Linked DNA regions of Homo sapiens: regions 2, 3 and 4 are each linked to region 1. Evidence: fine-mapped expression QTL. A gene starts in region 1. Each other region holds a variant in brackets. All regions are shown on one strand. Distances are from middle to middle. Region 1 holds the start of ZNF671 (zinc finger protein 671). Region 2 overlaps ZNF154 (zinc finger protein 154). Region 3 holds the start of ZNF776 (zinc finger protein 776). Region 4 holds the start of ZNF587 (zinc finger protein 587).

The links.
Region 2: its variant is fine-mapped to the expression of ZNF671 in whole blood (INTERVAL, PIP above 0.99).
Region 3: its variant is fine-mapped to the expression of ZNF671 in whole blood (TOPMed, PIP above 0.99).
Region 4: its variant is fine-mapped to the expression of ZNF671 in whole blood (TOPMed, PIP above 0.99).

The regions. Positions count from the first base shown.
Region 1 is chr19:57,722,771-57,730,877 of GRCh38, forward strand. ZNF671 (zinc finger protein 671) reads right to left here and starts at 4,854. Exons shown (of 4, transcript NM_024833.3): 1 at 4,621-4,854; 2 at 444-570. The coding sequence starts at 4,758. RefSeq lists enhancers at 4,553-5,053, 4,571-5,010, 5,151-5,200 and a silencer at 5,007-5,232.
Region 2 is chr19:57,693,486-57,701,592 of GRCh38, forward strand. It overlaps ZNF154 (zinc finger protein 154), which reads right to left. Exons shown (of 3, transcript NM_001085384.3): 3 at 2,790-8,107. Among named protein-coding and RNA genes, the nearest start is that of ZNF154, 12 kb to the right of the region's middle. The variant G/A (reference allele first, on the strand shown) is at 4,232.
Region 3 is chr19:57,745,375-57,753,481 of GRCh38, forward strand. ZNF776 (zinc finger protein 776) reads left to right here and starts at 1,441. Exons shown (of 3, transcript NM_173632.4): 1 at 1,441-1,717; 2 at 5,411-5,537; 3 at 7,917-8,107. The coding sequence starts at 1,685. RefSeq lists an enhancer at 1,453-1,502. The variant C/G (reference allele first, on the strand shown) is at 4,477.
Region 4 is chr19:57,847,418-57,855,524 of GRCh38, forward strand. ZNF587 (zinc finger protein 587) reads left to right here and starts at 2,442. Exons shown (of 3, transcript NM_032828.4): 1 at 2,442-2,654. The coding sequence starts at 2,622. It overlaps LOC124904782 (a long non-coding RNA gene), which reads right to left. Exons shown (of 2, transcript XR_007067358.1): 2 at 2,898-3,144. RefSeq lists enhancers at 2,040-2,149, 2,220-2,279, 2,450-2,689, 2,740-2,829, 2,884-4,083. The variant T/C (reference allele first, on the strand shown) is at 3,605.

The DNA.
Region 1 (8,107 bases):
TGTAGTCCCAACTATTCAGGAGGCTGAGATGAGAGGATGGCTTGAGCCTGGGAGGTAGAGGTTGCAATGAGCTGAGATCATGCCACTGCACTCCAGCTTGGGCAACAGAGCCAGACCCTGACTCAAAAAAAAAAAGAAAAGAAAATGTCACCTGGAGAAAGGGACAGAACCTTGGGCACAGAGGCATCATAATTTTGGACAGAGTCACCAGTACAGAAAGCGAACAGACCTAGTGAGATCCACTGGGCAAACCACAAGTCTCATGACCCCAAACCCTTGGCTGCACGGCTTCAGGACTACTCAGCAAGTAGGGAGGACACTCCATACAGCTTAGCCCTGGCATCTTGAGCACCTACTCCAGGAAACTGGTGAAGGAAGCGGTGCTCATGATCCCACCATAGGAAGAACAGAGTGGTAAAGGCAGAAAAGCATGAGGACCTTACCCAGTGAGGCTAAAAGTGCAAAGTTCTCCAGCATCACATCATGGTACAAAAGTCTCTGAGCATCATCAAGAAGCTCCCATTCTTCCCGAGAGAAGTATACAAACACATCCTCAAAGACCACACAGCCCTGCAACAAAAGGGACAGGAAGGACCATAAAAAGTCTCTTGACCAATGATCCCCAGTCTACCTACCCACAACATCCTGCTAACTAACCTCCCAGGTTCCCAAGTCAGAGATACCAGGCACTAGTACCACTGATCCTCACTCTCTCCTGATCACCCCAGCAATCACTGTGTCAGCCCACCACAACAACAGACAGGCTGACAGATAAATGCCATTTACACTCTGAGCCAGCCAACTCCCCTGGGGTACCCAAGATCACAAATCCCAGGTATGAACCTAGGCTCATTTTTCTCAGTTAAGCCCCAAGTCACAGGACCGTCAGCTCACACTCCCTCCTCTCATACACATCACTCTGGACTATGTCTCCCTCACATCTCCAGCTTCCCCCCCACCCTACTGGCCCACCCCATCTCCCTGGACTCCCCAAATGTCACTCTACACATAGCATTAAGAGTGCTTGCCGAAGGCAGATCACGAGGTCAAGAGAGCGAGACTATCCTGGCCAACATGGTGAAACCCCGTCTCTACTAAAAAAAAAAAAAAAAAAAATACAAAAATTAGCTGGGCATGGTGGTGTGTGCCTGTAGTCCCAGCTACTTGGGAGGCTGAGGAAGGAGAACTGCTTGAACCTGGGAGGCAGAGGTTGCAGTGAGCTGAGATCATGCTACTACACTCCAGTCTGGCGACAGAGTGAGACTCCATCTCAAAAAAAAAAAAAAAAAGTGCTTGCCAACAATCAGTATCCCATCTTGCTCCAAACCATCAATGGCCCCATTGCCAAGGAAAGCCCTATTGTTGCTCTGAAAGCCTCCCAATCTGGCCCTGTTCCTTTTTTCAATCACAGGCACCTCAAACCACATGCAGATCTCAGGTATCCTCAACCCTCTTCCATTTCTTTGTTGCACATTGTACCACTGTTTGATATGGATTGGATGTGTATCCCCTACAAATCTCATGTTGAAATGCAACCCCTAGTGCTGGAGGCCCAGGGAAGCCAAAAGATTGGACACCCCTGATTTAAAGTGAGAGATGTGTAACTACTCCTTTAACTTGAACTCTTAGAGGCCACTGTAGGGTTATTAACTGACCTGATTTCAATATTGCTGTGTGTCAGGGAATAGGAACGCTTAAAGAGAGGGAGAAGGATGGGGATCAGCTGGTCAGTGAGGCAGTCAGAAGACACATAACAATTTTTTTTTTTTTTTTTAGACAGATTCTTGCACTGTTGCCCAGGCTGGAGTGCAGTGGCACGATCTTGGCTCACTGCAAGCTCCATCTCCCAGGTTCACACCATTCTCCTGCCTCAGCCTCCCGAGTAGCCGGGACTACAGGCGCCCACCACCATGCCCGGCTAATTTTTTGTATTTTCAGTAGAGACAAGGTTTCACCATGTTAGCCAGGATGGTCTTGATCTCCTGACCTCGTGATCCACCCGCCTCGGCCTCCCAAAGTGCTGGGATTACAGGTGTGAGCCACTGCGCCTGGCCGACTTTAGGCATTTGACACAGATCTCTAACTAACTTAATGCAGGCAGCAGGAGATAAATACCCATGCTCAGCTGCATCATGAAAACGGAAGAAACTGGAACACATTCAACACCCTCAACACATTCCAGCTACATCAAAAGAGTCTGGTTCCTACCTTCTGGCCTTAGGATAATGACAGAATGTAGTACATCCTAAGTTCCAGAGAGTTACCAAAAACAGAGACAGCATTCTGGACAAACACAAAGATTAGAGAAGCACCTTAAATCTTTGGCCAGATGGATTCGTGAGATCCTTCTACTACACTAGGCAAGACTGGGAGAAGTAGTGAACTTTTTTTTTTTTTTGAAATGGGGTCTCAGCCAAGCATGATGACTCACACCTGTAATCCCAGCACTTTGGGAGGCCGAGGCGGGTGGATCTCCTGAGGGCAGGAGTTCGAGACCAGCCTGGCCAACATCGTGAAACCCCGTCTCTACCAAAAATACAAACAAATTAGCTGGGCGTGGTGGCGGGTGCCTGTAATTCCAGCTACTCAGGAGGCAGACAAGAGAATTGCTTGAACCCAGAAGGCAGAGGTTGCGGTGAGCCGAGATTGTGCCACTGCACTCCAGCCTAGGAAACGTGGTGAAACCCCGTCTCTACTAAAAATGGAAAAATTAGCGGGGTGTGGTGGTGGGCACCTGTAATCCCAGCTACTCGGGAGGCTGAGGTAGGAGAACTGCTTGAACCCAGGAGACAGGTTGCAGTGAGCCGAGATCGCGCCACTGCACTCCAGCCTGGGTGACAAGAGCAAGACTCCATCTCAAAAAAACAAAACAAAACAAAACCTGGCCAAGGCATGGTGGCTCACTCTTGTAATCCCAGCACTTTGGGAGGCCGAAGGGAGTGGATCAACTGAGGTCACGAGTTTGAGACCAGCCTGGCCAACATGGTGAAACTCTATCTAATAAAATACAAAAATTAGCTGGGCATGGTGATGCATGCCTGTAATCCCAGCTACTGGGAAAACTGAGGCAGGAGAATCACTTGAATCTGGGAGGCAGAAGCTGCAGTGAGCCAAGATCGCACCATTGCACTCCAGCCTGGGTGACAGAGCGAGACTCGTCTCCAAAAAAAAAATAAATAAATAAAATAAAACCAAAGCCAAGTGCAGTGGCTCACAACTGTAATCCAAACACTTTGGAAGGCTGGGGCCGGTGGATCAGTTGAGGTCGGGAGTTCAAGACCACCTGGGCCAACACGGTGAACGTCCCCCCCACTCCCCCGCCCCCACCCCACCCCTCCCACCTCCCCACCCCACCCCACCCCTCCCACCTCCCCACCCCCGTCTCTACTATAAATACTAAAATTAGCCAGGGGTGGTTGTGGGCACCTGTAATCTCAACTACTTGGGAGGCTGAGGCGGGAGAATCTCTTGAACCCGGGAGGTAGAGGTTGCAATAAGCCACTGCATCCCACCCTGGGCGACAGAGTGAGACTTCGTCTCAAAAAAAATAAAAAAAATAAATAAACTAAAACTAAAAGAAAACACACAAAATGAGGGTGAGATAATCAGATAGTAGCAATAGCACACCACCCATCGTTGCCATCCCAGGCCAAACTCCTCATACCCTACAGCTCTCTCCTCCTGCAAACACTGAAAAGAACCCTTTCAAATGGCAGGACCCTTCTCTTCTGGGGGGAGTCTCAAGAATGCCCACTCCCTCTTCCCTGCCCTGCAGTCCCAGCCTTCTCATCTCTTACCCCAGAGATATGAAATAACATACTTAAGACTGCCCCACTTAAATCTGACCTCCTGGCCTTGACCTACTCCAGACCGCTCCCTTCACCCCAAAGATATTCTAAGCCCAGCCCCTTCCCCACAACTTCAGACCTTCCTCTCTAGTTGCCTAAGTGAGGAAGCCTCCACTCTGAGACATCTCAAAGTCACCATTCCAAAATCCAAACGTTCATGGAAAAACAACAAAAACACCTTGCTCTTTCATGCCTTACTTTCAGTCATAGCTGCATATGATGGAGCAGAAAATCCTGTTGGTTTCAAATTTAAAACCTACCCAGAATATGATCACTTCTACCCACTCACCTGCCATTACTCTTGGTACATCCACCACCAAAGCATTCCTGGAATCCACTGCAGTAGCCTCCTTACCGGTCTCCTCGTATCCATCCTCGCAGTCCCCACCCCAAACTAATGTTCTCCCCTGAGCAAATTTCGAGACACTTAAAATCCCAGCTAAGATCACGTCCTTCTATTCAAAACCCTCAGTTAATCTCAACGCCCTCAGAATGAAGCGACAACTTCTCAGCCTGCCATTCCAGTCACAGTTCCTCAAACTCTGCTCTGTGTTGATGAGAACCCTGTCTCCCAAATGTTTGGGGGTCAGCAGCACCCCCGAGCCTTTACCTGCGCCGTCCCCTCCGCCCGTAACTCTCCCACACCCACCCACACCGAGATAGGACCCCGCCCCAAGAGTGCGTCGCTGTCCTGGGACACAGGGGCTGCAGGCACTTTACGATTCGGAGTCGGAGAAAGGGTGACTGAGGGCCCGGAGGACGCAGCACCCACCCGCGCGGAGTCCGTTAGCTCCGCCATAGGACCGTGGGCGCGGACAGCTGCCGGGAGCGGCAGGCGTCTCGATCGGGGACGCAGGCACTTCCGTCCCTGCAGAGCATCAGACGCGTCTCGGGACACTGGGGACAACATCTCCTCCGCGCTTTCCCAACACCTCCACCTGCGGCCCACACAAGCGTTACAGAACCCCGGCCAGGGACAGCCTGACAGAAACAAAATGTCCGCTACAAGGAGGAGCCGGAAGTCCCGCCCACGCACCCCCCGCAGGCACTGAAACACCCCTCTCCTGGGCCCTCATTGGGTATGCAACGTATAGGTTTGTGGGTAGAGTGTGGTTCCCACTGAGCTATCCTTCAAGGCAGGGGATTCTCGGCCTGGGCTCTTGGGAAAACTCGAAGTAGGAGGGCCAAGTTGTTTGGGAAAAGTAACCCGAGTTTCAAAGGGCTGACAGGACTTCCGTCCTCTTTTTTTTTTTTTTTTTTTTTTTTGAGACAGAGTCTCGCTCTGTCTCCCAGGCTGCAGTGCAGTGGCGCGATCTCGGCTGACTGCAACCTCCGCCTCCCGGGTTCAAGCGATTCTCCTGCCTCAGCCTCCCAAGTAATTGGGACTACAGGGGCCCGCCACCACGCCAGGCTAATTTTAGTACTTTTAGCAGAGTACGGGATTTCACCATGTTGGCCAGGCTGGTCTCGAACTCCTGACTTTGTGATTTGCCTGCTTCGGCCTCCCAAAGTGCTGGGATTACAGGAGTGAGCCATGGTGCCCGGCTGACTTCTGTCCTCTTAAAAGGCCTGGACCTAGATTCCCTGGAGTGTAGTATGCACCGATCGCAGAAATGTTGAGACATTTCAGATGTTCCCCAAAGCTGCAAAACTAAATAGATACACCACACCACAATGTCTCTTTGCGTACACTCACAGCTAGAAGCTAATAACTATTACCTTGTTGCTTTTTAAATATGTGTGCACTCAAGCTTTACAGTAACTTTTGTGAGCTTCAGTTTGGTCAGAGACGGAAGAGAAAATATTCCAAACAAGGCCTTGGAGTGGAAGAAGGAAGAGGGATGATGTGGAGTCTCCCTGAAACCAGTGGACAGATTTCTTCAGAAAACTCTTCCTGCCTGGGTAATCAGTGATGTCTCCATCACAGCAAAACACAGTGCAATTACCATTTAACCTGTCATTGTCATTGTAAGTATGGTGTCTGTGTTAGGAGGTGAGATTATCCCCGGGGGAAAAATCCTGACAGCTATTAATAATGATTCCGTAGTTATTTGAAGATAATGAAAGAAATTGCTCTAAGGAAATATCTGTGATAGATGGACAAAGTTAAGATCTCAGTAAAGTTTGAGCCTGAATACTAAAGTATAAGTGAAAGAATGAAGTTAAGCATATGGTTGTGTTGTGATCTTGACCACACTTTGTCAACAAAATGTGACTCTTTTTTCCTGAAAATGCTGAGCAATTGTAAAGAAGATATCAGAATGGTAAAAATCAACAGTGAAGTTGTGCTGTCTTGATAATTCACTGTTAAAATACACATCCAAGGAACACATACGAGCTCTCAGTAGGTGTTTTTCAAATGTGTTAGTAGCATGAAAGACATCACTAATAAAATTTCCAAGATTCCTATACATACAGGACATGTCCTGCATATAATGATTTTTGTCCTGCATCACCTTTTGACTTTGTCACAATACCCTAAATAAATATTCTAAAGAAGGCAACAGTCTTAAAGAAAAGAATTTTCAACCCGGAATTTCATATCCAGCCAAACTAAGCTTCATAAGTGAAGGAGAAATAAAATACTTTACAGACAAGCAAATGCTGAGAGATTTTGTCACCACCAGGCCTGCCCTAAAAGAGCTCCTGAAGGAAGCACTAAACATGGAAAGGAACAACTGGTACCAGCCACTGCAAAAACATGCCAAATTGTAAAGACCATCAAGGCTAGGAAGAAACTGCATCAACTAATGAGCAAAATAACCAGCTAACATCATAATGACAGGATCAAATTCACACATAACAATACTAACCTTAAATGTAAATGGGCTCAATGCTCCAATTAAAAGGCACAGACTGGCAAATTGGATAAACAGTCAAGACCCATCTGTGTGCTGTATTCAGGAAACCCATCTCACATGCAGAGACACACATAGGCTCAAAATAAAGGGATGGAGGAAGATCTACCAAGCAAATGGAAAACAAAAAAAGGCAGGGGTTGCAATACTACTCTCGGATAAAACAGACTTTAAACCAACAAAGATCAAAAGAGACAAAGAAGGCCATTACATAATGGTAAAGGGATCAATTCAACAAGAAGAACTAACTATCCTAAATATATATGCACCCAATACGGGAGCACCCAGATTCATAAAGCGAGTCCTTAGTGACCTACAAAGAGACTTAAACTCCCACACAATAATAATGGGAGACTTTAACACCCCACTGTCAACATTAGACGGATCAACAAGACAGAAAGTTAACAAGGATATCGAGGAATTGAACTCAGCTCTGCACCAAGCGGACCTAATAGACATCTACAGAACTCTCCACCCCAAATCAACAGAATATACATTTTTTTTCAGCACCACACTACACCTATTCCAAAATTGACCACATAGTTGGAAGTAAAGCACTCCTCCGCAAATGTAAAAGAACAGAAATTATAACAAACTGTCTCTCAGACCACAGTGCAATCAAACTAGAACTCAGGATTAAGAAACTCATTCAAAACCACTTAACTACATGGAAACTGAACAACCTGCTCCTGAATGACTACTAGGTACATAACGAAATGAAGGCAGAAATAAAGATGTTCTTTGAAACCAACGATAACAAAGACACAACATACCACAATCCTGGGACACGTCCAAAGCAGTGTGTAGAGGGAAATTTATAGCACTAAATGCCCACCAGAGAAAGCAGGAAAGATCTAAAATTGACACCCTAACATCCAATTAAAAGAACTAGAGAAGCAAGAGCAAACACATTCAAAAGCTAGCAGAAGGCAAGAAATAACTAAGATCAGAGCAGAACTGAAGGAAATAGAGACACAAAAAACCCTTCAAAAAATCAATGAATCCAGGAGCTGGTTTTTTGAAAAGATCAACAAAATTGATAGACCACTAGCACGACTAATAAAGAAGAAAAGAGAGAAGAATCAAATAGATGCAATAAAAAAAGACAAAGGGGATAACAGCACCCATCCCACAGAAATACAAACTACCATCAGAGAATACTATAAACACCTCTACGCAAATAAACTAGAAAATCTAGAAGAAATGGACAAATTCCTCGACACATACACTCTCCCAAGACTAAACCAGGAAGAAGTTGAATCTCTGAATAGACCAGGCTCTGAAATTGAGGCAATAATTAATAGCTTACCAACCAAAAAAAGTCCAGGACCAGATGGATTCACAGCCGAATTCTACCAGAGGTACAAGGAGGAGCTGGTGCCATTCCTTCTGAAACTATTC
Region 2 (8,107 bases), 29 kb before region 1:
GGCTCCGTCTCAAAAAAAAAAAAAATCTGATGTGTGGGCCACAAACACAATTGCACTATCTTTGTGGGGCAATTGTGATGAGGCAGGCACAACCTGATGTGATACTACTACTCCCTACACACATCACTGCATACTAGATGATGTACTGATGAGGGAACTGGTTCATACCCCAGCACAACCTGGAAATACACGTGTGAGCAGGTTTGACCTAAGCAGGAGAATAGGATGTTTATGGGCTTTATAGGAGGGCTCAGCCAGATTCAGCCAGTTTCAGAAGTAATTGGTCAAGTACAGGTGGGAGAAGGAACACTCTAGGGGATTAGTACTCATTGTCTGTCATTGATTTTACACAGGGCTGGGGAGGAGCAGTTGGGACTAAGGACACCTGCTACAGGGGTTGGGAGGCAAAAGCCATGGGTACAGAGACGCGCGATGGTCACGCTGGACATTCTCAGTTCTTCATCTTCTCTCCCAATGTCTGCAGTAGTGACTGATAACTGAGTGACAGTTCAGTATGGTGTGGAGGAAGCATCCTATGGTGGTGTTTAGATGGAAGACCGAAAGGACCCCAGGAATGAATCATTGCATGGGGTTGTGAGAGAGCGATGTGTTTGGAGTGACACCAGGGACCCTGTTGGAGGTGTTCAGGCAGTGGCAATGCTGACCATGGGAAGCAAGTTTGTGGAGAAGGACTTGAGGCCCCAGGTGGCAGTGTCCCAGTGTGGTTACTCATGTTCTGGGCTTAGCAGACTTGGCAGAGAGGAATCTGTCCAGAGTCTCCTGCATTTCCAGTCAGAGGAGTAAAGGGACCAAGGCAAGCCAACCCAGTTCAGCGTAGACCTCAGCTGCTTGTGTGAGAAACACACTCACCCATCCAAACCCAAAGAATGGACTAAAAGACACGAAGAACAGCGAAAGTGAGACTTTCAGTAACAGTCTTGCAAGATCAGGGGACTGGTGTAGGCAGGCATATCTAGGGTAGTCACAACAGGTAATTTATCTCCTTGCTTGCAAGTCCCTCCTCCAAGATACTCATTGGTCCAGTACTATGAGGTTACAGTCTTCCCAGATGTCGTCTAAGTTTCATTATCCCCCTTATAACGTTAAACCCCGGTCCCCTTCCCTGCTTAAGTTTTGATTTCCAATAATGAAACATTCTTCCCTTTCATGGCCTGACCCCTCCTCTACATTCTGTGTACCTATTGTGACCTTCTAGATGCATGAGCTGTGTGGTTTGTTACATTTGCAGGCTGGCTGCCAGTACTTAGATTTATCATGCCTTGAAAATGGGCTATTTAAAATATTTTCCCACCCTTGGCAGCTGTGGTCGTGTATGGATGTTGCTTGCCCTCTCTGAACTGCAGATACATTAAGAGACAGGAATGATCATTCCTCTCTACTCTTTTTGGGGGGAAGAAGGAATAAGTAAGGAGGTAATCCTTAGGAAGTGGGTCAATATTAGCTCCACATGAAAACAGTAGTCTTGGCCAGGCGCGGTGACTCACGCCTGTAATCCCAGCACTTTGGGAGGCCGAGGTGGGTAGATCACCTGAGGTTGGGAGTTCAAGACCAGCCTGACCAACATGGTGAAACCCCATCTCTACTAAAACTACAAAAATTAGCTGGGCGTGGTGGTGCACGCCTGTAATCTCAGCTACTCTGGAGGCTGAGGCAGGAGAATTGCTTAAACCCGGGAGGCGGAGGTTGCAGTGAGCCGAAATTGTGCCATTGCACTCCAGCCTGGGTGACAGAGGGAGACTCCATCTCAAAAAAAAAAAAGAAAAAGAAAAAGAAAGAAAAGAAAGTAGTAGTCTTGATTGTCAGCATCCAGGGAAATGTGCAAACCATTCTCGTCTCAGCCTCCTGAGCAGTTGGCACTACAGGCGAACACCACGATGCCTGGCTAATTTTTGTATTTTTAGTTGAGACAGGGTTTCGCCATGTTGGCCAGGCTGGTCTGAAACTTCAGGCCTCAAGTGATCTACCCTCCTTGGCCTCCCAAAGTGCTGAGATTACAGATGTGAGCCACTGTGCCCAGCCGGAATTCCTTTTTTTTTTTTTTTTTTCCTTTTGGAGACGGAGTTTCTTGTTGCCCAGGCTGGAGTGCAGTGGCACTATCTCAGCTCACTGCAACCTCCACCTCCCAGGTTCAAGCAATTCTCCTGCCTCAGCCTCCTGAGTAGCTGGGATCACAGGCATGTGCCACCACACCTGACTAATTTTGTATTTTAGTAGAGATGGGGTTTCTCCATGTTGTTCAGGCTGGTCTCAAAACTCCTGACCTCAGGTGATCCGCCTGCCTTGGCTTCCCAAAGTGCTGGGATTACAGGCGTTAGCCACCGAGCCCAGCCTCTTTTTCCCTTCGTTTTATTCTAATCAACCACTGAGGTTCAAAGAGGGTCTCTAGTCACTAACCCAGCCCCGCCCCAGCCCACTCAGCCCCTGTCCCTGGTGTGAGCCACCGCGCCGCCCAGCTGGAATTCTTCAGAGTAGAAAAAAGGGAAGGCTTTAGGTGTGCTAATTGGAGTCTGTGGGTCTGAGGAAGCCGAAGGCAGGCTAACTACAAGTAGGGCCTACTCTGTCATTGGTTAGGGACACATACTTGATTTCATCCATTTGTTCTTAAATTGGAAAGGGAGACAAACATTAGAGAAGCTGTTAGTCAAGTCCTTGACAGGGGTTGTTGGGGACTTTCTCAAGGTCACTTCCTTGGGAAGGAGTCCTTCAGAAATTCACACTGAGATCTCTGGACTCTGCAGCCAGTGCTTCTTCCAAAAATTCCATCCAAGTAGAAGCTGTGGGGTCAGGGGGTTCTAAGAAGCCCCATTTCTCTTTCTCTTGTACCTTAAGACCTGCCTGGATCAGGTAAATGATAAGGCATCAACTCACTAGGTGCTGGGGATAGTGCTCGGCCCTGCTTACCACCTGCCTACCACACCTTTTGCCAGGATCCCAGAGAGTACTGTGAGCACTCCTATTCCACAAACATAAAACTGAGGTACCAAGAGGCTGCAAAACCAGCAGAGTCCTGATGCTGGGCAGTGGCAGAGGAGGGATTAAACCCAGGCAGCAGAGGGAGCAGAGGGCCTGGGGCAGCCAGGCACCGGAAGTGCTGCAAGCACCAAGACCCAGGGTGGTAACTTGCAGGGGGAGGCCAGAGCATGAAGGCAGAGGGAGGTTTTGGGTGCAGCCTCCAAGTAGGGAATGGACAGTTTCAGTGTTGAGGCAGAGTGGCAAAGACAAGAGACCCACAGCACCCAGGAAATCCCTCAGCTATAAATACAGTCCCTCAGCACTTTTCACTCCCCTTCCCAAGGATACTATCATCACCCTCTCCTCACCTTGGAAAGAAATCAGGGCTCCAACTAGAGCTGCCTTGCTGGAAGCTCGCACTGTCCTGTCCCGATGTATCATCCAGCAGCCCCAAGGCAGCTCCCCTCATTATCCTCTGTCATAAAGATATGATGTTTGCTTTTCCTCTAGGTAAAGCCAGTAAGGTAATAGAGCATCACCTGTTAGGATGAACTATGTGTGACAAATGGTGCTGTCAAATTCGTATTTGAGGACTTGTTGTTGTTTATCTTGAAAACGTGTGTAATGGGCTACATCTGCTAGGCCATATGAAGGAGTGAGGCTTTTTTCTTACCTTGCAATTTCTTAGTGGATTGTCTGTGATGTGCATCACATTCTGGTTTAATGCTTAATAAAAGCGTTTTCTGTCTCTACCTTCGTGGAGAGGATTTCTGGGTTGGGAGAAGGTTTTGTATTTATTTCACTGTTGCCATCACACACCTGTCTGCTGGGACAAAATCTCAATCACCGATTTCATCAACATCTAGTGTACAAGTTAAACAATGTTAGAGATTCAATAAGCCACATCTAGAATACAGCAAATTCTAATTAAAAAATGACTCAGCAACTTCAAGAAATAAGAAAACAAAGGTAAATGGAACCTGTAGGTTACAGACTTATGAGATACAACTACTGAAAGCTATTAAATATACATTTGGATCCTGAATAAAAATGATCTTCCTTAAGAAACACATTGTTTTAGACAACTGAGAAAACAGAAGCGATAAAATATTTACATTTTAAAATATATTTGTGTGATTTTTTGGGGGGTTATAAAAGAGCCTTTACATTTTAAAATTGCATTCTGAAGAGGCTATGCATTAAATAATATGATATCCGGGAGTATAAGTAAAATAACGCACTAGTACACATGAGGACC[G/A]ATGAAACATAAATGACTATGAAATGATAAATGGTGAAGGAAAAAAAAATAGTGAAGGAAGACTGGAGAAAGGTTCATCTGGCTTCATAACAGTCTTTTCCATCTTTTTTTGTAATTGAACACAGCTGTAACAGGAGACAAAATATGTCATTGTACCAGTAATTTTACACAATGAAAATTAATTTTATATGTTGAGAATGAACTAAAAAGACAGAAGGAAACTGCGTTCCAGGGTGTAAGCATGTATGAAAATATCAAAATATGCATTTTAAATATAAGCACTTTAAGTTCCATTATACCTCAAACTACTTTAAAAAACTACTCAAAATATCCATAACAAATGAATGAATGAATAAACGAATACTGGTATATCCACAGAACATCATACTTCTCAGCAATACAAAAAAAAGAAACTACTCATAGAGGTATAATGATGAATCTCAAAATAAATACGTGACTATACCCAGGGATTAAAAAAGAGTAAATACATTATGGTTTCAATCATATAAAATTCTAGCAAATGAAAACTAATGTATTATAATGGAAAGTAAATCAATAGTTGCCTATAGGCAGATAATTATTAAAGGACAATGAGGTAACTTGTGGAATGACACGTTCATTGTCATGATTGTGAAGAAACAACTTCTTCCTAATCATTTCACTACATTTTATTTTCTACATTCTTGAGGTTATTCGTGGCCACTGTATCAGTATGGTAGAAACAGAATATATTAGGATGCTATCAGCAACTCTTCCCAATTCTACATTCAGTAACATGTTGGCAGTTTCAAAATTGGCATGGTGGGAGCAATTACAGGTTAATATGAATATCAAAGCTGATCAAATTATATAGTTTAAATATGTACCATTTATTCTTATTAAAATTATTATCAGGTTAGTGCAAAAGTAATTGCCGTTTTTGCATGTTGGATTTTGCCATTTTATATTGGAAAACATTCTTAAATAAATGTGGTTATACATCATTTTAATAGGCATTTCTCGCTTTATGTTTTTTTGCTGACTTACTACTTGCTGTTTATGTTTATTTTAGACTATGGAAATGTTAGACAAAACTCAAATTTCAGCGATTTTTTTGAGATAGAGTCTTGCTCTGTTGCCCAGGCTGGAGTGCAGTGACATGATCTTGGCTCACTGCAACCTCCACCTCCCGGGGTTCAAACAATTCTCGTGCCTCAGGCTCCCCAGTAGCTGGGATTACAGGTGCATGCCACTATGCCCAGCTAATTTTTGTATTTTTAGTAGAGACGGGGTTTCACCATGTTGGCCAGGCTGGTCTCGAACTCGTGACCTGTGATCCACCCACCTCGGCCTCCCAAAGTGCTGGGATTACAGGTGTAAGCCACCGCATCTGGCCTCTTTTTTTTGAGACGGAGTCTTGTTTTGTCTGTCGTCCAGGCTGGAGTGCAGTGGCGTGATCTTGGCTCACTGTGACTTCTGCCTCCCGGGTTCAAGTGATTCTCCTGCCTCAGCCTCCCAAGTAGCTGGGACTACAGGCACATGCCACCACGCCCGGCTAATTTTTGTATTTTTAGTAGAGATGAGGTTTCAATATGTTGGTCAGGCTGGTCTCTAACTCCTGACCTTGTGATCCACCTACTTCAGCCTCCCAAAGTGCTGGGATTACAGGCGTGAGCCACCGCACCCGGCTGAGATTTTCTTACTTGAGTTCCCAATGGGTCGTAAAGCAGCAGAGACAACTCACGATATAAACACATTTGGCCCAGGAACTGCTAACGAATGTACAGTGCAGTGGTGGTTCAAGAAGTTTTGCAAAGGAGACAAGAGCCTTGAAGAGAAGTAGTGGCCAGCCACTGGAAGTTGACAATGACCAATTGAGAGCAATATTAGAAGCTGATCCTCTTACAACTACATGAGAAGTTGCCTAAGAACTCAATGTCAACCATTCCACGGCTGTTCAGCATTTGAAGGAAATTGGAATGGTGAAAAAGCTTGGCTGGGCGCAGTGGCTCATGCCTGTAAATCCCAGCACTTTGGGAGGCCAAGGTGGGTGGATCACATGAAGTCAGGAGTTCAAGACCAGCCTGGCCAACATGGTGAAACCCCATGTCTACTAAAAATGCAAAACTCAGATGGGCGTGGTGGCGGGTGCCTGTAATCCCAGCTACCTGGGAGGCTGAGGCAGAAGAATCGCTTGAACCTGGGAGGCGGAGGTTGCAATGAGCTGAGATAGTGCCATTGCCCTCCAGACTGGGCAACAGAGCAAGACTCTGACTCAAAAAAAAATAAAAATAAAAATAAATCATGGTTCAAAACCACAGTTACTTTTGCACCAACCTAACAAAATATGGTTCAAAATAAAAGTCTGAATTTCCTATTGTTTTTGGAAAATCAGGTTTGACAACCCTATGTTGATTCCACCATCTCTCTCCTCATGTCCTGGGAGAGGATTTTGCCTCAGTGATCACAAATACAAGTGAACAGTGAAGGCCATTTCCACCTGACTCAACAGAAATGTTGGCTGGATCACAAAGGCTGTATCAATGGCCTAGACCTCCCTTCTCTATCCTTGTTTTCCTGCCTGCATAGCAATGACCTTGAGGTGAAAATCCCAGAGGCTACAGGATTCCATAAAATTTCTGACAATGACCTCAGCTACACAAGATACACAATTCTGTAGGTCCTGAGGATTTCTGTACCTGCTCATCCTTAAGAGCCATAATAACGAACATCATGGAAACCTCTGTAAAAGGGGCACATTCTATTTATTGCAGTGTTATTGCAGTTTTCCACTCTCTATCAATCCAGTACTTCTATAACAATTATAATTCCTACTATAATCTTACCACCTGTGGTGCTACCCTGTGGAATTCAGGATATCAAGGCATACAGGACCTGGGGAACAGATTTCCCCCACTGGCACTGAACACGATGCAGTATTCCTTGTGAACAAGAGAACAATTTCATGTTGCTTTCAGAAACATCAAAGGATGTCAAGTAACTGCTGCCTCCTCAGGCTGACCTCTATGGCATCCAGGATATAAATTAGGACAATACCCTGTAGTTTTTTCTCAGAGGCCTTGAATAGCAATGAAAACTAGGCTCAAACTAGAGAGAGAGCTATATTCTGCCATCCTACTGTCCCTGTCCCTGTCCCTGTTGAGCTACACAATGTTTGGGATCTCCAAAAAAAGTTATTCACCCCTTCATGTTAGCAGAACCCAACTGTTTTCAAACCAACCCATACATATAGAACCCCCAAGATTAATAAGGCCTTTGTTATTGTACAAACCAAGGCAATAAGAGGCAGTTGGTTCCCACAGTTGGTGATTTGAAGGCTGGCAAACTCTATCAAGAGTCATGTGAGACCAACAATATCCTGAAATATGTAGTCCCTCTTTTCAGGTCACCAGCAGAGTCCTCTGGGCCAAACTGGGTCAGGTCCATGGCCTAACTCATCAGAAAGGAAAAAAAAAAAACGGAATAAATGCTTAGGCTATTTACAAATTCCTCCCATGAACAGAACACCAAGGTTCACTTACCTGAATACACTGGGATGGGTGAGTGGTGCACACTGGTGGTCACCTGCCAGGCAGTAGAGGTAAAATGGCTTCCACTATAGTATCAGCAGAGACATAAATCTGACATGGGCCCTGGGCAGGGCAAAAGGTGCAATGCAGTTCACACATACCTGGAATTTATGCAGATGTTCAGATATAGGATGTTCAATTCAGGCTGATGCCACCCTCATAAGGGATCTCCTTCAGAGCTGTTATATCAACTGGACATCCCTACATATCAAAAGTGTCTTTCCCTTGTGAACTGTGTGGCACTCAATGAGATATGGCCTTCAGCTGAAGCTTTCTGACATTCACTGTGTACTCAAGGACTTTCTCC
Region 3 (8,107 bases), 23 kb after region 1:
TTCTCCCTGAACATAGAAGACATAGGTTTTTTAAGAACTGAGCGGCTGGGTACAGTGGCTCATGCCTTTAATCCCAGCACTTTGGGAGGCCGAGACAGGTGGATCACCTGAGGTTGAGAGTTCGAGACCAGCCTGACCAACATGGAGAAACCCCGTCTCTACTAAAAATACAAAATTAGCCAGGTATGGTGGCTCATGCCTGTAATCCCATCCATAACATTAATTTATTAGGCAAAACACTCCTTGCCATGGAAACAGAAATAAAGAATAGTCACAAAAAAAAAAAAAGAAAAGAAATAAATAAAGTCTGTTTTATCTAATACAAAAAAAAAAAAATAGCCACTTCCCAGCAATAACATGAACTCCTGGATTTAAGACACAACCAATATCAACAGGTGGAGAGCATCTTCTGCATACGTGCCCCACCTTTGAAAACTGCAGCCATTTATCACTACCAAAATAGCATTTCTTTCATTGGTCTTCCTGTAAGATTGATAAATCTTAGATAAATTAATCCAGAATTAATTGAATATAAGTTGGAATCTCAAGCGAGGGATACTAAGTGGATAAAAGTGTTGCTCAATGTACTGGACACTATGATTGATTTTATAGGCAGGAGAGTTGTCTTCTGTGGGAATCACAGACAGAGATTCAGCATGTATTCCTGCTTTAGGGAACACAACATTTCTCCTCTATCTTCCTTGTCTTGTCCTATCTGGATTAGTTCTCTCTTGTCCCTGACAGACTGAGAAACTGACTCTAATGCCTCAGAGTGCATTCATGTGAATTTATAACACAATAATGTTTATCAGCCTCTGCTGCCAGTACCGGGATTTTGCGACTGAAAGACTGTTCAAAACGTTATGATAATTTGGATTTTTAGTCTTTGGGGGCATCCTAAATAATAAGTTTAGCATCGGAGAGCTCGAGTTCCCCAAAATCTAAAATAATATTTTTTCAAATACTTGAGTGATCAGTTACAGACACTAATCTCCAAAAATCTCAATACGGGTTCTAAGGCTAGGTGAGACTATCCTCTACCCTAGAAGGACATGCACTTTAAGGACAGGCCGCTGAGATGGAGCTGGGCCTTTCCTGCAAGTAAGTGAACGTGATGGTAGGGTATACCTGACAGCATAGTTTGACAGGGGATATAGACTTTCAAGGAGAAAATAGACATGAAATAGATACATGCAGAAGTATAGTCAAATTGAGGGAAGATGACACTTAGGCCAGAGTAGTGTTTATTCACCACTCTGTGCAATCAAGCGCCTCTGAGAAGGCCTTCTTTACCGCCTTGGAACTGTCTTGGAACCTGAGGAAACTACATAACCCAGAAATCTCTGCGTCGAATGACAGCGCGTCAGAGCCAATGAGGGCTCAAAATAAAGGCGTTTCCGCGGAAACAGTATAAAGGTGGGACTTCCGGCGTCCTCTACTAGTGGCCATTTTGATTGGTGTTGGGTGTATTTTCCAGTGAGAGACCGCGGAGTGTTGGGTCGTGTAGAAGTGACTGAACCCAGAAGGTGGAGACGAGACGTTGTCCCGACTGCACAGAGGCTGCTCTGCAGCTCCTTAAAGGCGCTAGGCGTGACCCGCACCAAGGCCGGGATCGGGACCACCGTGCCCGGGTACCTGCACTGCTCGCCCCCTCCTTTCGACCCCGCTTTCCCCACCCAGTCGGATGGCGGCGGCCGCGCTGAGGCCCCCGGCTCAGGTAATTGTGGCGTCTTCCGTGCCCTCAGGTCACCTCATCTTTACCTAAGTCCAAAAGCAGAGAGGAAGCGGCGCCTGCTCAAGGTTTTACACCCTGAACCCGGCGTCGGGACACTGAGGCGCTCTCTATGGGCCCCCGTTTTTGACACCCGCGGGATGCGCTCAGGAGAGCTACAGGCACAGGGAGCGGTGCAGGCAAAGGCCTGGAGATGAACTGAGCCGAGAGGATCGTAACCTAGGGTCCACAGGCACCTGTCGGGAGCAAAGTGTGAGGCAGAGCTCCTCCTGGAAGAGCAGGCTGAGGACCGTGTATTCACCCTGAGAACGCTGGAAGCCATGGACAGCTTCCAACAAAGGAAGGAAAAGATCAATGTCCAGGCTTTAAAGGTTTCCCAAAGTCCAGTCGAAAAAGAACACAGGGGATGACTTTTGGGCCCTGGGAGGTTGAATTCTTGTTCAACCTCTACAGATCAGATAGGTGCTAAGAGATGACATTTTGTACTGAGGCGCTCAGTTCAGACAACCAACTCGCGTTTACCTAGTTACAGGGCCAAGAAAGAGTTCAGGGAGGCCTGAGCTTATCAAATCTCATCAGGGATACATTCTTGTAGCTTGTGCCTCTCCTCTCAGGAACTCCTGGCTGCAGAAGCACTTGCAGAACCTCCGCAGGGAAGCGGAGGGTGTTATTCCCTCACTGGCCCTAACTCCTATCCACATGCTCTTTAGATTGGGATGTCCTGGGATTCTTAGGTACCTTTTTTTTTTTTTTTTTAAGTTTTTTGATATGGGAACCCTGGAGGAACCTTAAACCCAGGATCCAAAGTCTGTGACACAGGATATATGGAGGTATTCCCATTTCTGTCAACCAGTATAAACATACTTGGAAGGTTAACCCAGGAGTTAGTACCAGGATGTGAAATGCTTAGAGGTGAAACTGACCAGAGGGAGGAGGTGATGTTGCCACAGTTTCATCTGGCTGTAGTCTCCTCTGGCTGTACAGTGGAGAACAGACTGTGGGGTTGAGAGAGGAGGAAATAAGATGAGAGTTGAGGCTTTTGCCGTAATCCAAGTGAGGGTTAACAGACTAAGATTCATGGCTAAGGAGATGTGGCTGGATTCAAAGTTGATATTTTGTTACAGCATCTAGGTTTCCTAATACACAAAGTAAGGGCATGAAGAGAGCAATCAGGATCCCGAGGTTTTTGGTCTTAGTAGCTGTAGCTATGGAAGCTGCATCAGCTGAGATGAGCATGTTGGTAATAAACATAATTAGAATATTATGCAAATATCAGGATGACTGTTATGGCCATATGAAGAGTCAGAGACGAATAAGTGTAGGCATCAAATGGCTATGGACATGCAGGTTGGGGTATCTGGAAAGGGATTGACACTGGAGACATCTAATATATGGTAGCTAATGTGTATGCTATGGTGAGTGAGCCATGGGTCACATTAAGGAGAACACACTTCAGATTCTGGTGGTAAATCTTTTAGGGGACCAGAAAGCAGTGGTTGAATGATGAGGACTGCATCTGTTGCTTGGGTCCCTGGGTAATGTTACTGGGCTTCCTAAACACTGGAGAGGTAGGTAAGTGACCATGATGGTAGGGTATACCTGTCAGCATAATTTGACAGGGGACATAGACTTTCAAGGAGAGAATAGACATGAAATAGATATATGCAGAAGTGTAGTCAAATTGAGGGAAGATGACACTTAGGCCAGAGTGGTACTTATTCACCACTCTGTGCAATCAAGATTTGAGATGACTTTGGTAGTGTGTGGGGGGTTTCATTACACGTGCTGAATATGCTCAGGGAGAAATATGGTCATCTGTGACAGTAGGTCTTGGGCCTTAAATGGATTAAAAACAGGACTTTTTTTTTTTTTGAGACGGTGTCTCACTCTGTCGCCCAGGCTGGTGTACTGGTGTATAGTGGCGCAATCTTGGCTCATTACAACCTCCACCTCCCAGGTTCAAGTGATTCTCCTGCCTCAGCCTCCCGGTAGCTGAGAATACAGTTGCGTGCCACCACGCCCCACTAATTTTTTTTTGTATTTTTAGTAGAGATGTGATTTCACCATATTGGCCAGGCTGGTCTCGAACTCCTGACCTCATGATCCACCTGCCTCAGCCTCCCAAAGTGCTAGGATTACAGGTGTGAACCACCATGCCCATCCAGGACTGCTCTTTAAATGGCAATGGTATTAGGTGAATGGAAGTTGGTCCGTGTTGCTGAAGGGTAAGCCATTGTAGCACAGAAGTGGAATAAGACCATGGATATCTGAAGTTACATGTGGTTTTGCATGGATGTGGAGTAATGCAAGGAGGCATTCATAGAATTATTAGGGACTACCACTGCTAATGGGAACCATGGTCATTTTGTGTTATTATTGGATCCTGTTTGAATATGTGAAGCATATTGGATGCTGTCAGCCATATTGTGGTATAAAGCCAAAAATGGAGGCCCAATATGATGTGTCACCTTGACATCTAGTGATATTGGTATGACCTCAAATGACCTGAGAACCAATTCCCTTCCCACTAGGCTCTTTTAGATAATAATCAGCATGGCCTAATAATCCTTTTATTAGGGAGACCAGGCAGAATTCCTGGTTATTATACTTTGTAGTGAGTTTCAATTTTATCCTTACCCACAGTGTTATTCAAACAAGCCAGTTGCATCCTCCTAAGGGATTCGGGGGTCATCACACCCTCTTCATTTTAAAAGCTTGCATATCATAGTTTCTGGTTATGCACT[C/G]TTATCCATAGTGCAACCCCTATGTGGTCCTTCATGATGAGGGATGTCCTCTTCTAGACTTTGAGTGTATTTGATTTTTAAACATATTTATAGCACCTGTCTAGTGTTTGATGTCATGTGTTTGGTCATTAATATAACTGTAAGGTGAAAATCTCACCCTTACTGGTAGAAGGAAGAAGAGGGTATAAACATACTTTAACTTGTGGGGAGGCAGAGGCCAATGTGGGAGGCAGTTTAGTGGGGGTGGCCATGGGCATGTGTCTGTGCAGTCTAAAGAATGATGTGTATTTTGGCCTAGCACAGTGGCTCATGCCTGTAATCCCAGCACATTGGGAGGCTGAGGTGGGTGAATCACTTGAGCTCAGGATTTCGAGACTAACCTGGGCAACATAGTGAAACCTTCTCTCTACCAAAAATACAAAAAAAAAAAAAAATTAGCCGGCACGGTGGCATGCACCTGTATCCCATCTACTCGGGAGGCTAAGGCCAGAGAATTACTCGAGCCCAGTAGACAGAGGTTGCAGAGAGCTGAGATTATGTCATTGCACTCCAGCCTGGGCAACAGGAGTGAAACCCTATCTCAAAAAAAAAAAAAGCAAAAAAAAGGAATGATGTGTATTTAGAGAAGGAGTATGTCTGATAGACTGAGGATGCTGCATTGGGATTTACATGACTTCATCTCTACCAGGGGCATTGGCTATCAGGAAGTTATGGACCGCTTTATATCAGCACCAAAACATAGAAATCTATTGTTTCACCCACTTCTTGTGGCTGATGGCTGTACACCATGACCAGTGAGCCCATGAGAAGATAGTGACACCAGTGGGCCTAGTTTCTCCTTGTAGTTTAGGACCTTGGGAGGAGGAAGGGCAAGGGTGGATAAGTGGATGAGCATATGGAGTGTTTGTGGTTTCATCTGTCATCATCACGGCAGGGCACTGTGACCTTTGAAGATGTGGCTGTGAACTTTTCCCAGGAGGAATGGAGTCTCCTTAGTGAGGCTCAGAGATGCCTTTATCATGACGTGATGCTGGAGAACCTGACACTTATATCTTCTCTAGGTAAGGCACTCACACTCTTCTCTATGACCTCAGCTATTGTCTGTCTGTCCCCATCTTTTTTCCCCATGGCAAGACTGTTTTCCTCACTTCAGGAGCCTGGGCACAGGTTCCTCTGTTAGTTCCCTGGGTAGGTTCTATGTGGTATGTAGGACTGAGGTGTGTGCACTGCCCTCTCTCTCCTTGAGCAGCCCCAACACCTGCTTTGCTGCAAGCTCCCAGAGAAGGAGCTTTACAGGCACCATAATGCATCCCACCTTGCTTGCCCTCTGGCTGTTGAGTAATTTTTCTAGATCAGAGACTGGTATGCACAGGTTCTACTTCCTTGCTCTAGGTGACATTTATTCATGACTGCCTGTGCTAGGAATTCCTCCCATCACTGATGTTCTCAATACTTACATGCACCATAGGTTGTTCTTGCAAGACCCTCCTTATAAATTATCTTGTTTGTTTTGTTTTGTTCTGTTTTGTTTTCAAAGTCTTAACTCTGTCACCCAGGCTGGAGTGCAGTGCTGCAGTCATAGCTCACTGTAGCCTCAATCTCCCAGGCTCAAGCAATCCTCCTTCCTCAGCCTCTAGAGTAACTCGGACTAGAGGCTTCTGCCATCACATCCCACTAATTTTTATTTTTATTTTTAATAGAGATGAGGTCTGGCTGTATTGCCCAGGCTGGTCTCTGACTCCCAACCTCACGTGATCCTCCCACCTCATCCTCCCAAAGTGCTGGGATTACAAGCATGAGCCAGTGTGCCCTGAGTATTTTTTGCTTTTTTGTTTTTTTTTTTTTCAGACAGGGTTTCACTGTCATCCAGGCTGCAGTCTACTGATGCAATCATGGTTCACTTCATTCTCAGCCTTCTGGGCTCAAGTAATCCTCCCACCTGACTCCTAAGTAGCTGGGACTACAGGAGCATGCCACCCTGCCCAACTAATTTTTGTTCATTTGTATTTTTGGTTTTGTTTTTTTTTTTTTTTTTTTTTTGAGACGGAGTCTTGCTCTGCCACCAGGCTGGAGTGCAGTGGCCCAATCTCGGCTCACTGCAACCTCCGCTTCCCAGGTTCACACCATTCTCCTGCCTCAGCCTCCCGAGTAGCTGGGACCACAGGCACATGCTGCCACACCTGGCTAATTTTTTTGTATTTTTAGTAGAGACGGGGTTTCACCGTGTTAGCCAGGATGGTCTCGATCTCCTGACCTTGTGATCCACCCGCCTCGGGCTCCCGGAGCTGGGATTACAGGCGTGAGCCACCGTGCCCGGCCTCATTTGTTTGTTTTGTAGAGATGGTGTCTCATTATGTTACCCAGGTTGGTCTTGAACTCCTAGGGTCAAGTAGTCCTTCCAGTTTGGCCTCCCACAGTGCTGGGATTATAGGTGTGAGCCACTGCACCTGGCCAAAAATTATCTTTGTAGTATTTAGTTTTCTTTCCTATGGGCTATCATGTGCTGATTTTTTCTGAACTGTTGGTTGGCTATTCTTCTCTCTTGTCTTTCTCTTATTCTTTATGTCATCCATGTCTCATGTAAATTCCATGTATATCTTTGCAGTGGGACTGAGAGTTCTCAGTGATCCAGAAGTTGCAGCTAAACCCAGGCTCAGCATGATGGGCCCAGAGGGAGGCCACCTCTGAGGAGTAACACCCTGGAGGAAGACATAACATTAGGGATTTAGGAAAGTCATGCTAGAAGCTCTCTGATTTCACAAGTATTTACCTGGCAACATGACGAGCCATATGCTGTTTCTGTCTTCCCCATTCTTGAGAGTTTCAGACTTCACCGTTCTATACCCTGTCACTTCTCCTCTGATGCCAGCCCAGGACTAATCTTCACATCTCTGGATCCCACCTGGACCCATTTTTCTCACATTTCCATCTGCAGTGGACTCCAATACTGGCATATCAATTTTGTATTAGGAAGTGTGTACACATTGCTAAGCCATACCTGACCAACAGCTGCTTTGTTGTACTCGTATTTTCTTGTGACACACAAACAAGTGTATCTTTGTTGTACTCGTATTTTCCTGTGACACACAAACAAGTGTATCTAACAGAGGTATTACTCCATGGAAATAATTGCAGAAACAGAATGTTGCCTTTAGGTTGAAGATAAGTCTTCTTCATATTACTGGGTTAGAATGATTACAGAATGTAGGGGGCCACATGATGTGAAGGAGCCAACAATACATGCACTACAGGAAGCAGAGGCAATTCCTTCCTGTGCAAACATCTAAAGGACCTTCATAAAGCATGTGGGTGCTATATAAAAGGATATGTCTAGGCCCAAGTAAATATAAGTACAACAAAGCAGCTGTTGATCAGGTATGGCTTAGTAATACTTCCCTTCGGAAGTACCTTGCATTTTACCAGCATTTTATTTCTTTTAGGTTGTTGGTATGGAGCAAAAGACGAGACACCTTCTAAGCAGACCCTTTCTATACAACAGGAGTCCCCACTCAGGACACATTGGACAGGTGTATGTACCAAGAAGGTCCACCTCTGGGGAATGTGTGGCCCTCTCCTGGGAGATATCTTACACCAGGGAACACAACACAATCAGAAATTGAATGGGTTTGGG
Region 4 (8,107 bases), 120 kb after region 1:
AACTAAGATGGCAAGAATATGAACTCTAGTTACCCTCATTGCCTCACTGCTCATTATATGCTCATTATAATGTATTAGCATGCTAAAAGACACTCCCACCAGCACCATGGCCGTTTACAAATGCTATGGCAATGCCCAGAAGCTACCTCATGTAGTTTAAAAGAGAAGGAACCCCTGGTTCTGGGAACTCCCCACTCTTTTTCTAGAAAATTCATGAATAACCCACCTCTTATTTAGCACATAATTAAGGAGTAGCTATAAATATAGCTAGCCAACAATCCACGGGTGCTACTTTGCCTGTGGAGTAGCCCTGCTCTGTCTGTGGAGCAGCCATTTTCCTGTTCTCTTGCTCTCATAAACTTGCTTTGCCTTCACTTTACACTCTTGGCTTGCTCTTGAATTATTTCCTTTATGAAGCCAGGAACCCTCCTGGATTGAGCCCCAATTTTGGGATTTGCTAGCATCACTAGAGCAATTTTCTGTGGGAACCAGTGGCCAACTGCCAGCTTCACTACCTGCTTCAGGGTGTACCAACATCCGTCTATTTCCCTGTCATTAGATCTTTATTATTATTTTATTTTTTTGAGACGGAGTCTAGCTCTGTCGCCAGGCTGGAGTGCAGTCATGCGATCTCAGCTCATTGCAACCTCTGCCTCCAGAGTTCAGGCGATTCTCCTGCCTCAGCCTCCCGAGTAGCTGGGACTACAGGTGTCTGCCACCATGCCCAGCAATTTTTTTAACATGGGTTTTGCTGTGTTAGCCAGGATGGTCTTGATCTCCTGACTTCATGATCTGTCCACCTCGGCCTCCCAAAGTGCTGGGATTACAGGCGTGAGCAACCGTGCCCGGCTAATTTTTTTATTTTTATTAGAGATGGGGTTTCACCATATTGGTCAGGCTGGTCTCGAACTCCTGACCTCATGATCCACCTGACTCAGCCTCCCAAAGTGTTGGGATTATAGGCATGAGCCACTGCACCCAGCAATTTATTTATTTTTTATTTTTTATTTTTTTTGAGACAGAGTCTCACTCCTGTTGCCCAGGCTGGAGTGCAATGGCATGATCTCGACTCATCGCAACCTCCACCTCCAGGGTTCAAGTAATTCTCCTACCTCAGCCTCCCGAGTAGCTGGAATTGGAGGCATGCAGCACCATGCCTGGAAAATTTTGTACTTTCAGTAGAGACACGGTTTCTCCATGTTGGCCAGGCTGGTCTCGAACTCCCGACCTCAGGTGATCCACCTGCCTTGGCCTCCCAAAGTGCTGGGATTACAGGTGTGAGCCACCATGTCTGGCCTTTATTTTTATTTTTTGTGGGTATATAGTAGTGTATATATTTGTAGATTACATTAGATATTTTGATGTAGCCATGCCATATGTGATAATCACATAGGGTAAATGGGGTCTCAGTCACCTCAACATTTATCCTCTGTATTATAAACAGTCCAGTTATACTCTTTTAGTTATTTTTAAATATATAATTAAATTATTTTGACTATAGCCACCCTGTTATGGTAGCAAATATTAGGTCTTATTCATTTTTGCTCACTGTTTTTTGTACCCATCCTGTCATCATGTCTTATGGAGAATTTTCTTTTGTTCCCAACAAAACAATGAAACTCGCAAAACTGACTGTAATGATTCAGTCTACGTGAATTTAAAGAGCAATCAATACTTAATGTTCTCAGCTCTGAGTGCACACATTGTAAGTCTGAATGATGCCAATGATATGGCCACTTAGATAAGTAAAGTTTGGGAGCATCTCAAATAGTATTTTTATTCTCTGGGTGCAGGATGAGCTTCCTAGAGTCTGATGTGATACCTATTTGATGCTTTTACAAAGAATCAATAATCTTCCTCCTTTGAGGTGTGAGCAGGGCTTTCCAGCAGCCCTCAGAATGTAACATGGTCTGCATTCGGTTTGCTCTTGGAGGATACCACCATTGTTGGCTGAGAGCTCTGGGAAGTACTTTACCCAGAAGGCGCTAGTTGCAAGGCCCAGGATGAGGGATTTCTGGGCATGCTTGTCAGGCCAGGGAGTACTGGGTTGGGACTGAGAAGGCACAAGAGGAGTAGTCATCTCTGCTCCCAAGTGGCAGGTCTGAGGCTCATAGGCACTGGCTGGGGTGATGCCTGCTCCACCCACAGTTGATGGCAGCAGCCACACTGAGGGACCTAGCTCAGGTAAATGCTGTGTATTACAGGCTTCACCCCAGCTAGAGTAATACAGGTAGAGGAACCAATAGGTACAAAGGCTTGGAGGTGCATCTGAGCCATGAACATTTCAGAACCTGGTAACCATGTTGTGTCATGGAAAGTGGGGAACTACATTACCCAGAAAGCTCTGCTTTAAACGACAGCCGGTCAGAGCCAGTGAGCACTCGGAAAGAAGGCATTTCCACGTGTGCACGTAACGTAAGGCCGAGACTTCCGGGGTCTCTAGTAGCGGCTGTGTATCGGCGATGCGGGTGTTTCCCCAGTTTGTGGCCCCTGAGTGCTGGGTGGGACCGCGGTGACTGAACCTAGAAGGTGGAGAGGAATCGTCCTCGGTGCCCAGAGGCGGCTCTGCAGCCCCGTGACGGCGACCACTGCTCCCGGGCCGTGCTTCCCCAAGTAGTCCGATGGCAGCGGCTGTGCCGAGGCGCCCAACTCAGGTAATTGTGGTGCCTTCTGTGCCCTCAGGTCACCCCATCGTCACCCAGGTCCTAAACCAGCGAGGGAGCGGCTCCTGCTCGTGGGTCTGTAGCCGGTACCCGGCGTAGGAACACTGAGGCGCTCACAGGAGGCCTCTCCTTGTAACCGTCCAGTGGGTTCACGTTGCCAGCTGCCTAGACAGAGCCGATTTATGAAGACTGGGGAATTGCGATGGAGAAATAGTAATTCACGCAGAGCCGTCCTGCTGTTCGGGAGACAGGAGTTTTATTATTCAAATCAGTCTCCCTGAGCATTCTGGGATCAGAGTTTTCAAAATTTGGCGGGTAGGGGCTTGGGAAGTGGGGAGTGCTGATCAGTCTGGTTGGAGATGGATTCATAGGGGGTTAAAGTGAGTTTTTCATGCTGTTTTCTGTTCTGGGTGGGATGGCAGAACTGATTGACCCAGATTACCGGTCTGTGTGTTGTCCGCTGATCCATCCAGTGCAGGATCTGCAAAATGCCCCAAGCACTGATCTTAGATATTGGGGAAACCAGCCCCACACCACCCAGCAGATACCCCGAGTCCTGCGGAGACAAAGGAGTTAGAAAGAGACAGAATACGCATTTAAAAGGCGGGTCCAGGTGGCCAGAGCATTGGAGGCTTCCTGGCGGCCCAGAGCTCTTGGGCTCCACCCAGTTTATTGGTTTACAAGCTCTTTGTTCTTATGGCTGATTGGAGGGGGAGGAAGCGATCAGGAAAAGGATTAATCAGTAAAGGAGAACTCGTGAGTCATTCCATAAGATGTAAAGCACTGGCCGTTTCTGTGAATTTCCTTGAACAAAGGCGTGTGTCTAAACTACTTAAGATCTTTAACTTAACTGAAACGGGTGGCTGCGGGTTTCAGGAGGAGCCAAGATGTTTGATTATGCTCCACTGCTTCAAGGGAGTGTGATCTCCCTGAGCAACCCA[T/C]GGAATGCTGCTGAAGAGTTATGCTCTCGGGGCATAAAGACATGAAGGCAATAAGGAGACTTTTCTCCTCAGAGGCCGCCCATGGCTTCCCATGGGTGTCTCACACAGGGGAGACCAACTCAACTAGCACCCCAGAAACTCACATTAGGTTTTACAATAGTAAGGTTATCTTCAGGAGCAACTTGGGGAGGTTCAGACTCTTGGAGCCAGAAGCTGCATGACCCCTAAACCGTAATTTCTATTCTTGTAGCTAATTTGTTAGTCCTGCAAAGACAGGCTGGTCCCCAGGCAAGAAAGGGGTCTTTTCAGGAAAGGGCTATTATCAATTTTGTTTCAGAGTGAAACCATGAACTGAATTCTTTTCCAAAGTTAATTCAGCCTATGCCCAGGAATGAAAAAAGACGGCTGAAAGGTTGGAAGCAAGATGGAGTCGGTTAGGTCTGATTTCTTTCACTGTCATAATTTCGTCAGTTATAATTTTGCAAAGTCGGTTTCACCTGTTTCTGACACCAGTGGGATGCAGTGGGGAGAGTGACAGGCACAGGTAGGGGTGCAGGCAATGGCCTGCAGATGGACAGAGCTGGAAGGATGGAACCTGGGGTTCACAGGCATCTGTCAGGAACAACGTGTGAGATGGAGCTCTTCCTGGTAGAGCAAGCAGGCCAGGGGCTGTGCATTCATCATGAGGATTCTAGAAGCCATGGAGAGTTTTGAAGAAAGGAGGGACATGATCCAAATCCAGGCTTTTAAGAAGTTTCCCAAAGGCCAATCAAAGGAAGAACATCATAGAGAGAGAGGATGAGGACTTTGGGGCCTTGGGAGGTTGAATCCGTTTTGTAGATCACATAGATGGTAGAGATGACATTTTGCACTGAGAAAAGCAGGTCAGACAACCAGCCTTAGGGTTACCTGGTTCCAGGGACAAGAAAGGGTTCAGGGAGTCCTGAGCTTATCAAATCCTGTGACATGTTTGTAATGTCTGCCTTTCCCCTCAGGCACTCCTGGCTGCAGAAGCACTTAGGGAACCCACACAGGGAAGTGGAGGGTGTTCCATTCCCTCATTGGTCCTGACGCCATCTACAGGTTCTCTAGCTTGTGGTGTCCTGGGACTCTTAAGTGCCATTTTTTTCAGTCCTTTGATCCGAGGACCCTGGAGAATCTCTGAAGCCAGGATACCAAGTCCATGACAGGTTATATGGAGGTATTCCCATTTCTGTCAACCAATGTAAACACCCTTGTAAGATTAACCCAGGATTTGCTACCAGGTTGTGAAATGCTTAGAGATAAAACGGATCAAAGTCAGGAGGTGATATTACCACAGTTCTACCTGGCTACAGGCTTCATCTGGCTGGACCTTGTTGCATAGACTGTGGGTTGAGGGAAGAGGAAGAAAGGTCAGAGATAAGGCTCCTGCCATAATCCAGGTGAGGGTTAATGGATCAGATAAGTGGTAAATCACATGGGTCTGGATTCAGGATTCACTTTTTGTAAAGAGACAGCTAGGTTTTCTTTTTTTTTTCTTAACGTGGAATTTCAGTCTTGTTGCCCAGGCTGGAGTGCAATGGCGCAATCTTGGGCTCACTGGAGCCTCTGCCTCCCAGGTTCAAGCAATTCTCCTGCCTCAGCATTCAAGGTAGCTGGCATTACAGGCACCCACCATCATGCCCAGCTAATTTTTGTATTTTTAGTAGAGACGAGGTTTTACCATGTTGGCCAGGCTGGTCTCGAACTCCTGACCTCAAGTGATCGTCACATCTCGGCCTCCCAAAGTGCTGGGATTATAGGCATGGACCAATGCGCCCAGCCGAGACAGCTAGGCTTTTTTTTTTTTTTTTTTTTTTTTTTTTTTGAGACGGAGTTTCACTCTCTTGTCCAGCCTGGAGTCTAGTGGCACAATCTCAGCCCACTGCAACCTTCACCTCCTGGGCTCAAGTGATTCTCCTGCCTCAGCCTCCTGAGTAGCTGGGATTACAGGCATGTACCACCACACTCGGCTAATTTTTCTATTTTTAGTAAAGTCGGGGTTTCACCATGTTGGCCAGGCTAGTCTCAAACTCCTGACCTCAGGAGATTCGCTGGCCTCTGCCTCCCCAAGTGCTGGGATTATAGGCACGAGCCACCATGCCTTGCAGACAGCTAGATTTTCTAATGTGGATGATAGGAGCATGAAAGAGGAATCGGGCATGAGCCCAAGGTTTTTGATCTTAGCAGCTGTAACCATGCACACTGCTTCAGCTGAGATGACGTTGGTATTGACATAATATTCACTGTGGATATCCAGAGGGTTGTTTTGGCCATATGAAGAATCAGAGACCAATAAGTGGTGGCATCAAATCGATAACTAGACATACTGGATGGGGTATCTGGGAGGGTGTTGATACTGGAGACATCCAATATATGAAAGCTAATGAGTGAACTATGATTAGTTATGGGTCCATTTAGGAGGACATGCTTCAGATTATGGTGGTAAATCTTTTCAGGGGGCAGAAAGGTGTGATTACAGGCTGAGGACTGGATCTCTTACTTACGTCCTCAATTGATGTTATTGGGCTTCCTAAACACCTGAGAGGGTGTGAGTGACCATCATAACAGGACATTTAATACAGTAGAGTTTGGAAGGGGACATAGACATCCAAAGAGATAATAGAGAAGAGATAGATGCATGCAGAAGCACAGGAGTAATTCAGGGAAGATGACACTTAGGCCTGAGTTGGTGCCAAAGTTGTAACTTTTTTGTTTTTTTTTTTTTTTCAGATGGAGTTTCGCTCTTGTTGCCCAAGCTGGAGTGCAATGGTGCCATCTCGGCTCACTGCAACCTCCACCTCCTGGGTTCAAGCAATTCTCCTGCCTCAGCCTCCCAAGTAGCTAGTATTACAGGCACCTGCCACCACAGCAGGCTAATTTTTGTATTTTCGGTAGAGACAGGGTTTCACCATGCTGACCAGGCTAGTCTTGAACTCCTGACCGGGTGATCTGCCTGCCTCGGCCTCAAAGTGCTGGAATTGCAGGCGTGAGCCACTGTGCCTGGCCAGTTGTAACTATTTATCACTGTCTGGACTCATAAACATTTTGAGATGACTTTGGGAGTGCCTGGGGAGTTTCATTCAGCCTGGTGCATATGGGCAGTGAAAAATATGCTCATCTGTGATAGTAGATGTGGTTTGGTTCACAAATCCAGGGGCTGGGCTTTAAACGGCATTAGGTGGACAGAGGAGGGTTGCTACAGCTGAGGTCTCAGCTGGTGCAGCACAAAAGTGAAATAGGGCCATGGCTATCTGAAGCCATATGTGGTTCTGTGTGGCTATGGAGTCATTCCAGGAGACGTTCACAGGATGATTTGGGATTACCACTGCTATTGTAAACCATGGAAATTCTGTGTTAATATTGGATGCTATTTGTATTTGTCAAGCATAGTCTGGATGCTTATCCACATTTTGGTATAAGGCCAGAATTGAAGGCCCAATATGATGTGTCACTTTGACATCTTGTGAAAGTGGGACAACCTTAAAAGGTGTGAGTACAAATCTCATTCCCACTCTGCTCTCTTGAATAATGTATCCTAGCCTAACAGCCCGTTTTATCAAGGTGATAAGGCAGGGTTCCAGGTTGTTATATTTTGTGGTGGGTTTCAATTCCATCCCTACCAGCAGAGTTATGGAAACAAACCATTGCATATTCCCAAGGGAATCATGGGCCGTTATACCCTCTTCATCTTGTGAAATAATTTTATTTGTAGGCGCTGGGTGTGGTGGCTCACCCCTATAATCTCCTCACTTTCAGAGGCCAAGGCTGGTGGATCACTTGAGACCAGAAATTCAAGACCAGCCTGGCCAACATGGTGAAACCCCGTCTCTACTAAAAAAAAAAAATACAGGCCAGGCATGGTGGCTCAAGCCTGGAATCCCAGCACTTTGGGATGCTGAGGTGGGTGGATCAGGAAGTATGGAGATCGAGACCATCCTGGCTAACACAGTGAAACCCCGTCTCTACTAAAAAAAAAAAAATACAAAAAATTAGCCAGCTGTGGTGGTGGGCACCTGTAGTCCCAGCTACTCGGGAGGCTGAGGCAGGAGAATGGCCTGAACCTGGGAGGCAGAGCTTGCACTGAGCTGAGATCATGCTACTGCCCTCCAGCCTGGGGGACACAGCAAGACTCCGTCTCAAAAAAAAAAAATTAGCCGAGTGTAGTGGTACATGGCTGTAATCCCAGCTACTTGGGAGGCTGAGGCACAAGAATCACTTGAACCTGGGAGGCGGAGGCTGCAGTGAGCCATGATTGTGTTCCTGCACTCCAGCCTGGGTGGCAGAGCTAGACTATGTCTCAAAAAAATCCCCCAAAAATAAACTTTTACTTCTGGGGATGCCAGAGAGGGGCTGAAGGTTGGGGAAACTCTGGTGGGGGTGGCCATGGGCATGTGTCTGTACAGTATAAAGAATGATATATATTTAATGAGAGCGAGGTTGTCTGATGGACTCAGGCAGCTGCCTTGGGCTTTACGTGAC